2 separate regions of the Homo sapiens genome follow, and region 2 is linked to region 1. The links come from fine-mapping of genetic effects on gene expression. A gene starts in region 1. The other region holds a variant in brackets. All regions are shown on one strand. Distances are from middle to middle.

Region 1 (4,183 bases):
GCTTGGGGTTTCTTCTGAGGTGAGCTCATTCTGAGAAAAGAGGACTAAACTCTGTCACTGGGTCGCCGGACTCTACCCATCTCCCTTTTCATGGGCCACTTGTGGCATTTGAGGGCTCAGGCTTAACTCATGAAAGAGCTTTCTCAGGAAACAGACACAATTTCTACGACCCCTGGAATTGCTGGGGACTGAACAGGCCAGGGAGGACTCAGGGGACAGGGTTCACACTTCCTAATTCAGGGAACCCTGCATGAGGGCCAGCCCCTGAAGCAGGAGATATCAGTTAAACGGGAAAGTGGGGGTCTCATGTAGACCCTGTTCTCTGCCTCCCATAAAATGATGGGTTCAGGACCCTGAGAACTAGAGGCCAGTGTTCTTGAAAAGGCCATAGAGGAAGTGGCCCTGAGACTGGGTGGGGCCCTGAAAAGTGAGCCGTGTGTCTTGAGTTGGGTAGGGGTGAGGGGTGCTACTGCAACAAGAGGGACCTTGGACAGGACCTCCTTTTCCTCCGAAGGGGAGCTTAGCTCACAGTGACTGAGGCTCAAGGAACTATTCAAACACAGACTAAAGTCTTTCAGCCCAAGTCTTCCCTCTCCTGAAAGTTGACAAGACCCAGGACCCCCTCTTCAGTCCCCAGTGCAGGTGTATTCCTGGATGCTACTCTGGTTGTTCATCTCCCATTTGGAGATAAATAGACCCTGTTGTCTCACCTTCCTGCACAATGAGCAGCCGTCAGCACAAAGTTCCGTCTTATAAGGAAACCACCACAAAATTTTGAGGGACCGTTGGAAGTTACAATTTCCAGGTAGGCCATGTAGGGGCGGGAATGTGGCTTGCATTCTGTGCCCCCGATGATCTCCCCTGGAACAGAGCACCCCAGGGTTTGAACACGGCCATAGATACTCTCTCCAATGAATGGACAAATTGGGTTAAAGCTGAGCTAGGCTTCCCTGGAATCTCATTCTCACCCTGTGTTCCGCCCATCTTCCCTCTCCTGTCTCCTGTATTTCGTATCTTTCCCCACCCATAACCTCCCAGGTGAAATCTCATTCTTGCCTCTGCTCCATTCTGATGTTTTCATCTCAGACTTCTCCCACTCCCACCTTGCCCTGGCCCACCCTCCTCTGTCTCTGTGTAGGACCCACTGTCCAGGTTCCTGTTTTAGATTTCTCCATAGCTCTTGAGCATGGTCACAGAGTGAGAAAGTCACAAAGTAATGGGTAGCCCTGATGCTCAGAAGATTAAGAGGACATGTCTGTTTTCCTGGGGATACCCCTTTTCCTTCCACTTGCTCTGGGCTTTTCTACAATTGAGGTGAAATTCCTTGTTCCTGGGGGCTGTCCTAGGCTGTAGAGAATGGCAGTGGGTGGGGGTGGGGGTGGGGTGGCACACATCCCAAGTGGAAATTTCCCTCTGGGACTCTTGAAGAGAGATCTTGGAACCCTGTTTAGGAGTCAGCTATTTTCAGACTAAACATCTTTGTTTCAGGAGCTGATACTGCAGATTTCAGAGGGAAGAACCCTGATACTCACCAGCTTCAGCTCTGGAGCACAAGAGAAAGAGCAGCAGGGGGAGAGGAAGAAGCAGCATCTTCCCAGAGAGGCTGCCTGAGCAAATGCTGGTTTTCCTTTCCAGTCTTGGGTTTTATAACTCCCAGAAGGCAAGAGAGGGGCAAGGCTGGTAACCACAGGAACTGCATGGTCACGTTTTCTTCTCTCACTCTGAATTGGCTGTTTCTGATCAGAAGTTCCCCTAGAATCACCCAGTGTTTTTCTAGAAAGGAACTTGAGCCCTGAACTCCCAAGTGCTGGCTTCTCAGATGTACCCTCAACTATGGTGACTTTTCTGGAGTTGGGGGCAGGAAATGGAGGGACCATGTTTTTCTTTCCCAATTAGGGCAGCTTGTGAAAGGCCCACTGAACGTTCAGTGCAAAGACTTTTATGGCTATGTTCCATAGTCAGAAATGCATATTGCAGAGTCCCAGTGCATGCACATATGTATGTGTGAGTATGTAAGCACAAATTAAAGGTTTCAGGAAACAATCTTTATCTTAACCATGTGCAGTGTTTTCTGTTAGTTTCCATTCCACTCCACTCCACTCCATTCCACTACACGTCAAAACTTGAGCAACAACCCCATTTAAATGATAATTCCTTGTAATTTGAAAAACATTGACCTGGATCTCTCTCCTCCTCTGAACCACATGTTTTTGACAGAAGAGAGATCCAAGGAGGGTAGATGTGGGAAAAGAACAGACCCTAGGACAGAACTTTATGCAAAGAGCAATTGGGATTGGAATTAGCATTTTCTGAGAGTCTAGGTGTATCATATATTGTCACAACTCTTAGATATATTATTACTTTCACGGCAACCCTATCAATATGTATTACCATTATGATCATTATCATGTCATGATAGTCAATTTTTTAAATCAGCTATCATAGCTTATGGTTCAGAAATAGATTTTCCTGATATCAAATCAAGGTCCCTTTCTGCTCTAGCACTAGAGAGAAATAGAGGAATAGAGTCCTGCCAATGTGCAGGGGAAGTAAAGATGTAGAAGGGTGTTTGCTCCAGAGAGGTTGGGGTTTCCTACTGTTGCATTAAGAATCAAGCTTTCCACAACAACCTGGGGACACACCATTACTGTCACTTTACAATTGTAGAATTGATACTCAGACCCATTAACATGACAAAGATCACACACCTTATAATATCAGAAGTGGGTTTCAAGCACATAGCTTTTATTTTCCCTGGACTTACAGAAAGCAGTCCACATGGTGGACTGTCATTTCTCTTGGAGATTTATAAGGCATTTAGTTCAAAGACGGGGATGAGTAGTGTATAAGTGCCTTTCCCAAATCATCTCACTATGCCCTTGGTCTCAGGTTGGGCTTGTGACCAGAGTGATCCACTCCTTAGTATATATTGGCCAGGTCCTCTGTTGCTTTTAACTTAATTTCCCAAGTTCTACCTACAGCTCTAACTCTCTCTAGAATAAGACATTTAAACACATCCGTAATGTCTTTTCAAATCTGGTCTTCTTAAGTGTCCTTGTACCACTTTCTTCACTCTCTCGGGGGTTGCCAGAGAATATTCAGAATGCCCAGTTAAATTTGTATTTCAGATGAACAACAAATCATTTTTTAGTTAAGTATGTCCAAATATTGAATGGGACACACTAATACTAAAAAATTGTTGTTTATCTAAAATTTGAATTTAACTGGAATCCTGTATTTTTTATTTGCCAAAGTTGGCAACTCTTCTCTGGGCATTTCACCATTAACAGAACAGAAGAGAATCCGGAGCTGGAGAACTCTTGTCTTGTGGTCTTACATCAGTTAGACCAAAAAATCAGAGGCTTAAACAAATCAAAGCTGTTTGCTTTCACTGATATAATTAGAAATTGAGAGGCAGGTAGTCTGGGGCTAGTAAGACAGCTCCACAGCATCAAGATTCAGATCCACCAAGACTTAAGTTTTGCTCCACCTGCCTGGCTGAGGGTGAGGAAATGGAATAGGTATAGCCCCAGTCAGGGGACCAATTTCAGAAACGAGGACTGCGCTATCTGCTCACATTTCCTTCTTTGCTTTGTCATATGTATACCTGTGTATTTTAAGAGATTTCCTTTTTCTCTTTCTTCTTCCCCCTTTGGTTATTTTATATATAGCATGTTGGTAGTGAACTTTATGGTTTAGGGTACAGTTATCAAGTTGGGAGACTAGAGAATATCAAATTGAAAATGTGACCAAACTATTGTTGGAGCAGGTATCACCTAGAGACACAGTACTTGAAGTTAAAAGCAGTAACTGTTGAGACTGGGTTATTTCAGTTCTGCTGAGTCAAGTCTAATTTTCCTTTATATAAAAGATGGTAAAGATTATGTTCAGTGGGATAATTTTTGTTCTTGGAAACTTTAAGTGTGGCAAAAGAATGAATGTTGATGTGGGGCAACCAAGTGATGGATTGTAGTGGACATTTTCCATTTATATGGCTCCTTAATGTCTCTGGAACACCCTTCCTGTATTAGAGGAATTCCCAATGATAACTTTGCCTTACTAAGGTAGAATCCACAAACTTCCATTCCCAGTTTCTCTTGCATTTAGGTCATGTGACTTAGACTCTGTTAATCAGATAAAGGGGTGTACAATTTGACTTAGAAGGGAGTAACATGAGGGAGCT
Region 2 (4,183 bases), 89 kb after region 1:
TAGCTACCTGGGTGGGTAGGGAAGAACCATGAGGTGGCAGCAGGGCTAGGCATGTCTGAGCTCAGACTCTCCTTGGGTGGGTTTTGCTGTGGCTGCTGTGGGGAATAGGGGTGAACTTCCCATGTCAATGGAATTGTGTACCTAGGAGGATTAGGGCTGCCTCTGCTGAGTCATGCAGGTTGTCCAGGGAAGTGGGGGAAAGTCAGCAGTCAAAGGCGTCATGCAGCTCCTATGCAAATCGAAGGGCTGATCTCATTCCAACTGTGCCCCAAATAACAACCCTGAGTCTGTTTCCAGGCAGTGGGTGAGCTGGGCATGAGAACTTGCCCCAGGCTACCTCTTCCAGCTGTGAAAGAAAAGGGCTTCAGTTCTTCCCCAGGCTGTGGAGTCTGCACACTGGATTCATGACCTCCCCCAAGTTCTGGCCAGGAAGCTTCTTGCCCAATTCAAATTGTTGCAAAGTTCAGCTGGAGATTTCCTTCTTCCTGTGGCATTTTCCTGTTGCTCCTCTGGCCACCCTCCCAATGGATCCGTGTGGTCCCTGGCAGGAATGTCTTGCTTGGGGACCGAGTGAGCTCTTAGAGCCTTTCTGCTGCTTCCTCTACCCCTGTATTTTACTCAGCTCTCTAAATTGACTCAGTGCCAGGTAAGGTTGGAAACTTCTCCCACAAACAGAGCTTCAGTTTCTTCAGTAGGGATGTGTGTTAAGGAGAGGAGGATCTCCCCTTTCCACTTCCACAGTTGGGGCACTCACAGTATTTGTGGTGTCTCCCGGGCCCTGCGGGAGCAGTATGCTTCTTTCAGAGGTCTGTGGGTCCTCTTGGGATTGCTGGTTTGTTCTTGCCATTGATATGGAGAAAAAATTCACAGTGTGACCCTCCACAGGCTGCTCTGTCTGTCCGAGTTGGAGCTGCAATCTAGTCCTGCCTCCCGTCTGCCATGATGATTTCTAGATGTCTTTTCTTTTCTTTGTGTCATCTTCATTTTATTTTATCAGTGTTTTCTAGTTTTCAGTGTAGAGTTCTTCTTTCACCTCTTTCATTAAATTTGTTCCTTAAATATTGAATTTTTTGGTGGCTATGGTGAATAGGATTGCTATCTTGATTTCTTTTTCTGCTAATTTTTATTGGTATATAGAAATGCTATTAATTTTTGTATGTTGATTTACTAAATTTGTTTATAATTTCTAAGAGTTTTTTTATGAAGTTCTTAGCTTTTTCTTTATTTCAGATTGTAATGTCTCCTTTTTTGTTTTTGCTTTCATTTATTTGGGTTTTCTTTCTTTTTTTCATAGTCTAGCTAATGGTTTGTTGCTTTTGTTTATCTTTTCAAAAAGCCAAGTTTTTGTTTTGCTGTCCTTTTCTATCTTTTTCTCTATTTCATTTAGCTCCTCTCGTTTTTTATTATTTATTTTCTTCTACTAATTTTGATTTTGGTTTGTTCTTGCTTTTCTGATTCCTTAGGTGCATTTCCAGGTTGTTTATGTGAAACCTTTCTACTTTTTTGATGTAGTGTTTGTTACTATAATCTTCCCTTTTAATATTGCTTTTGCTTATCACATAGGTTTGGTATGTTTTGTTTCCATTTTCATTCATTTCAAAAACTTTTTTGATTTCTCCCTTGATCCAATGGTTGCTCAGGATGTTTTTAAATTTCCATGTATTTGCATAGTTTCCAAAGTTGTTCTTGTTTTTGATTTTTATTTTTATTCTATTGTGGTCTGAGAAGATACTTGATATGCTTTTGATTTTTAAAAATTTATTGAGGCTTGCTTTATGGCCTAACATGTGGTCTTTCCTGGAGAATGTTGCATGTATTGATGAGAAGAGTGTGTATTCTGCATCGGTTGGATAAAGTGATCTGTAGATGTCTGTTAGGTCCATGGCCTACAGTGTGGTTGAAATCCAATGGTTCTTTTTTGACTTTCTGTCTAGATGACCAGTCCAATGCTGAAAGTAGGGTGTTAGAGTCTCCA[A/G]CTATTGTTTTGGCATCTATCTTTCCCTTTAAATCTAATAATATTTGCTTTATATCTTGGTGCTCCAGTGTTGAGTGCATATATATTTGTAATTGTTATATTCTTTTGCTGAGCTGATCCCTTTGTGATTATATAATGACCTTCTTTGTCCCTTTTTACTGTTTTTGACTTACAGTCTGTCTTATTTGATATAAGTATAGCTACACCTGCTTGCTTTTGGTTTCCATTTATGTGGAATATCTTTTTTTCATCCTTTCACTTTCAGTCTACATGTCTTTACAGGTGAAGTAAGTTTCTTGTAGGAAGGATATAGTTGGATCATGTTTTTAAAAATCCATTCAGCCAATCTGTGTTTTCAGTGGGGAATTTAATCTGTTTATGTTCAAGGTTATTGTTGATAGGTGAGAATTTATTTCTGTCATTTTGTTTATTATTTTCTGTTTTTTTGTATATGTTTTATTCCTTTCTTTCTCCCTTGTTGTTTATAATTGTGATTTGAATGTTTTCTGTAGTGGCAATATTTTAGTCGTTTCTTTTCTCATTTGTACATCTTTTCTACCAGTGAGTTTTATACTTTCATGTGTTTTCATGATGCTAAATATTCTTTCACTTCCAGATGTAGGGCTCCCTTAAGCATTTGTTTTAGGACTAGTCTAGAGGTGATCAATTCCCACAGTGTTTTCTTGTCTGGGAAAAGCCTTGTATCGCCTTCATTTTGGAAGAATAGCTTTTCTGAGTATAGTATCCTTGACTGCTAGATTTTTTTTTCTTTTTCAGTAATTTGAATATATCATCCCATTCTCCTGGTCTGTAAGGTGTCTGCTGAGAAACACACTTTTAGTCTGATGGGGGTTCCCTTTCAAGTGACTACATGCTTTTCTCTTGCTGCTTTTAAAAAATCTCTCTTTGTCTTTCACTTTTGACATTTGACTATAATGTACCTTGATGAAAACCTTTTTGGTTAGATCTATTAGGTTGGTGCAAGAGCAATTGTGGTTTTGTCATTAAAAGTAATAGCAAAATCCCAATTTCTTGTACTTTCTCTGTCTTTTTTTTTACTTTAAGTTCTGGGATACACGTGTGGAATGTGCAGGTTTGTTACATAGGTATACATGTGTCATGGTGGTTTGCTGCATCTATCAACACGTCATCTAGGCTTTAAGCCCCTCATGCATTAGGTATTTGTCCTACTGCTCTCACTGCCCTTGCCCCCAATCCCCTGACAGGCCCCAGTGTGTGATGTTACCCTCCCTGTGTCCATGTGTTCTCATCGTCAGCTCCCACTTATAAGTGAGAACATGTGGTGTTTTGTTTTCTGTTCCTGTGTTAGTTTGCTGAGAATGATGGTTTCCAGCTTCATCCATATCCCTGCAAAGCACATGAACTCATCCTTTGTTATGGCTGCATAGTATTCCATGGTGTATATGTGCCACATTTTCTTTATCCAGTCTATCATTGATGGGCATTTGGGTTGGTTCCAAGTCTTTGCTATTGCAAATAATGCTGCAATAAACATAAGTGTGCATGTGTCTTTATAGTAGAATGATTTCTAATCCTTTGGGTATATGGCCCATAATGGGATTGTTGGGTCAAATGGTATTTCTGGTTCTAGATCCTTGAAGAATCACCACACTGTCTTCCACAATGGTTGAACTAATTTATGCTCCCACCAATACTGTAAAAGCGTTCTCATTTCTCTACCTCCTCTCCAGCATCTGTTGTTTCCTGATTTTTTAATGATTGCCATTCTAACTGGCATGAGACGCTGTCACATTGTGGTTTTGATTTGCATTTCTCTAATGACCTGCGATGATGAGCTTTTTTTCATGTTTGTTGGCCTCATAAATGTCTTCTTTTGAGAAGTGTCTGTTCATATACTTTGCTCATTGTTCATGGGGTTGTTTGTTTTTTTCTTGTAAATTTGTTTAAATTCCTTGTAGATTCTGGATATTAGAACTTTGTTGGATGAATAGATTTCAACAATTTTCTCCCATTCTCTAGGTTGTCTGTTCACTCTGATGATGGTTTCTTTTGCTGTGCAGAAGCTCTTTAGTTTGATTAGATCCCATTTGTCAATTTTGGCTTTTGTTGCAATTGCTTTTAGTGTTTTAGTCATGAAGTCTTTGCCCATATCTATGTCCTGAGTGGTATTGCCTAGGTTTTCTTCTAGGGTTTTTATGGTTTTGGGTGTTACATTTAAGTCTTTAA

Direction of the effects. Alleles are on the strand shown, and positions count from the first base shown. SD is a standard deviation of normalised expression in the study named.
For the expression in unexposed skin of the gene that starts at base 1,620 in region 1, allele A in region 2 goes with a lower level than allele G (small effect, 0.29 SD a copy in GTEx).

The links. PIP is the estimated chance that this variant, and not a neighbour inherited with it, causes the effect. A credible set is the group of variants that fine-mapping cannot tell apart.
Region 2: its variant is the best candidate, but not a certain one, in a credible set for the expression of CMA1 in unexposed skin (GTEx, PIP 0.50).

What each region holds. Positions count from the first base shown.
Region 1 is chr14:24,506,646-24,510,828 of GRCh38, forward strand. It overlaps CMA1 (chymase 1), which reads right to left and starts at 1,620. Exons shown (of 5, transcript NM_001836.5): 1 at 1,533-1,620; 2 at 711-861. The coding sequence starts at 1,590. RefSeq lists an enhancer at 229-1,428.
Region 2 is chr14:24,595,357-24,599,539 of GRCh38, forward strand. No RefSeq gene overlaps it. Among named protein-coding and RNA genes, the nearest start is that of GZMH, 12 kb to the right of the region's middle. The variant A/G (reference allele first, on the strand shown) is at 1,976.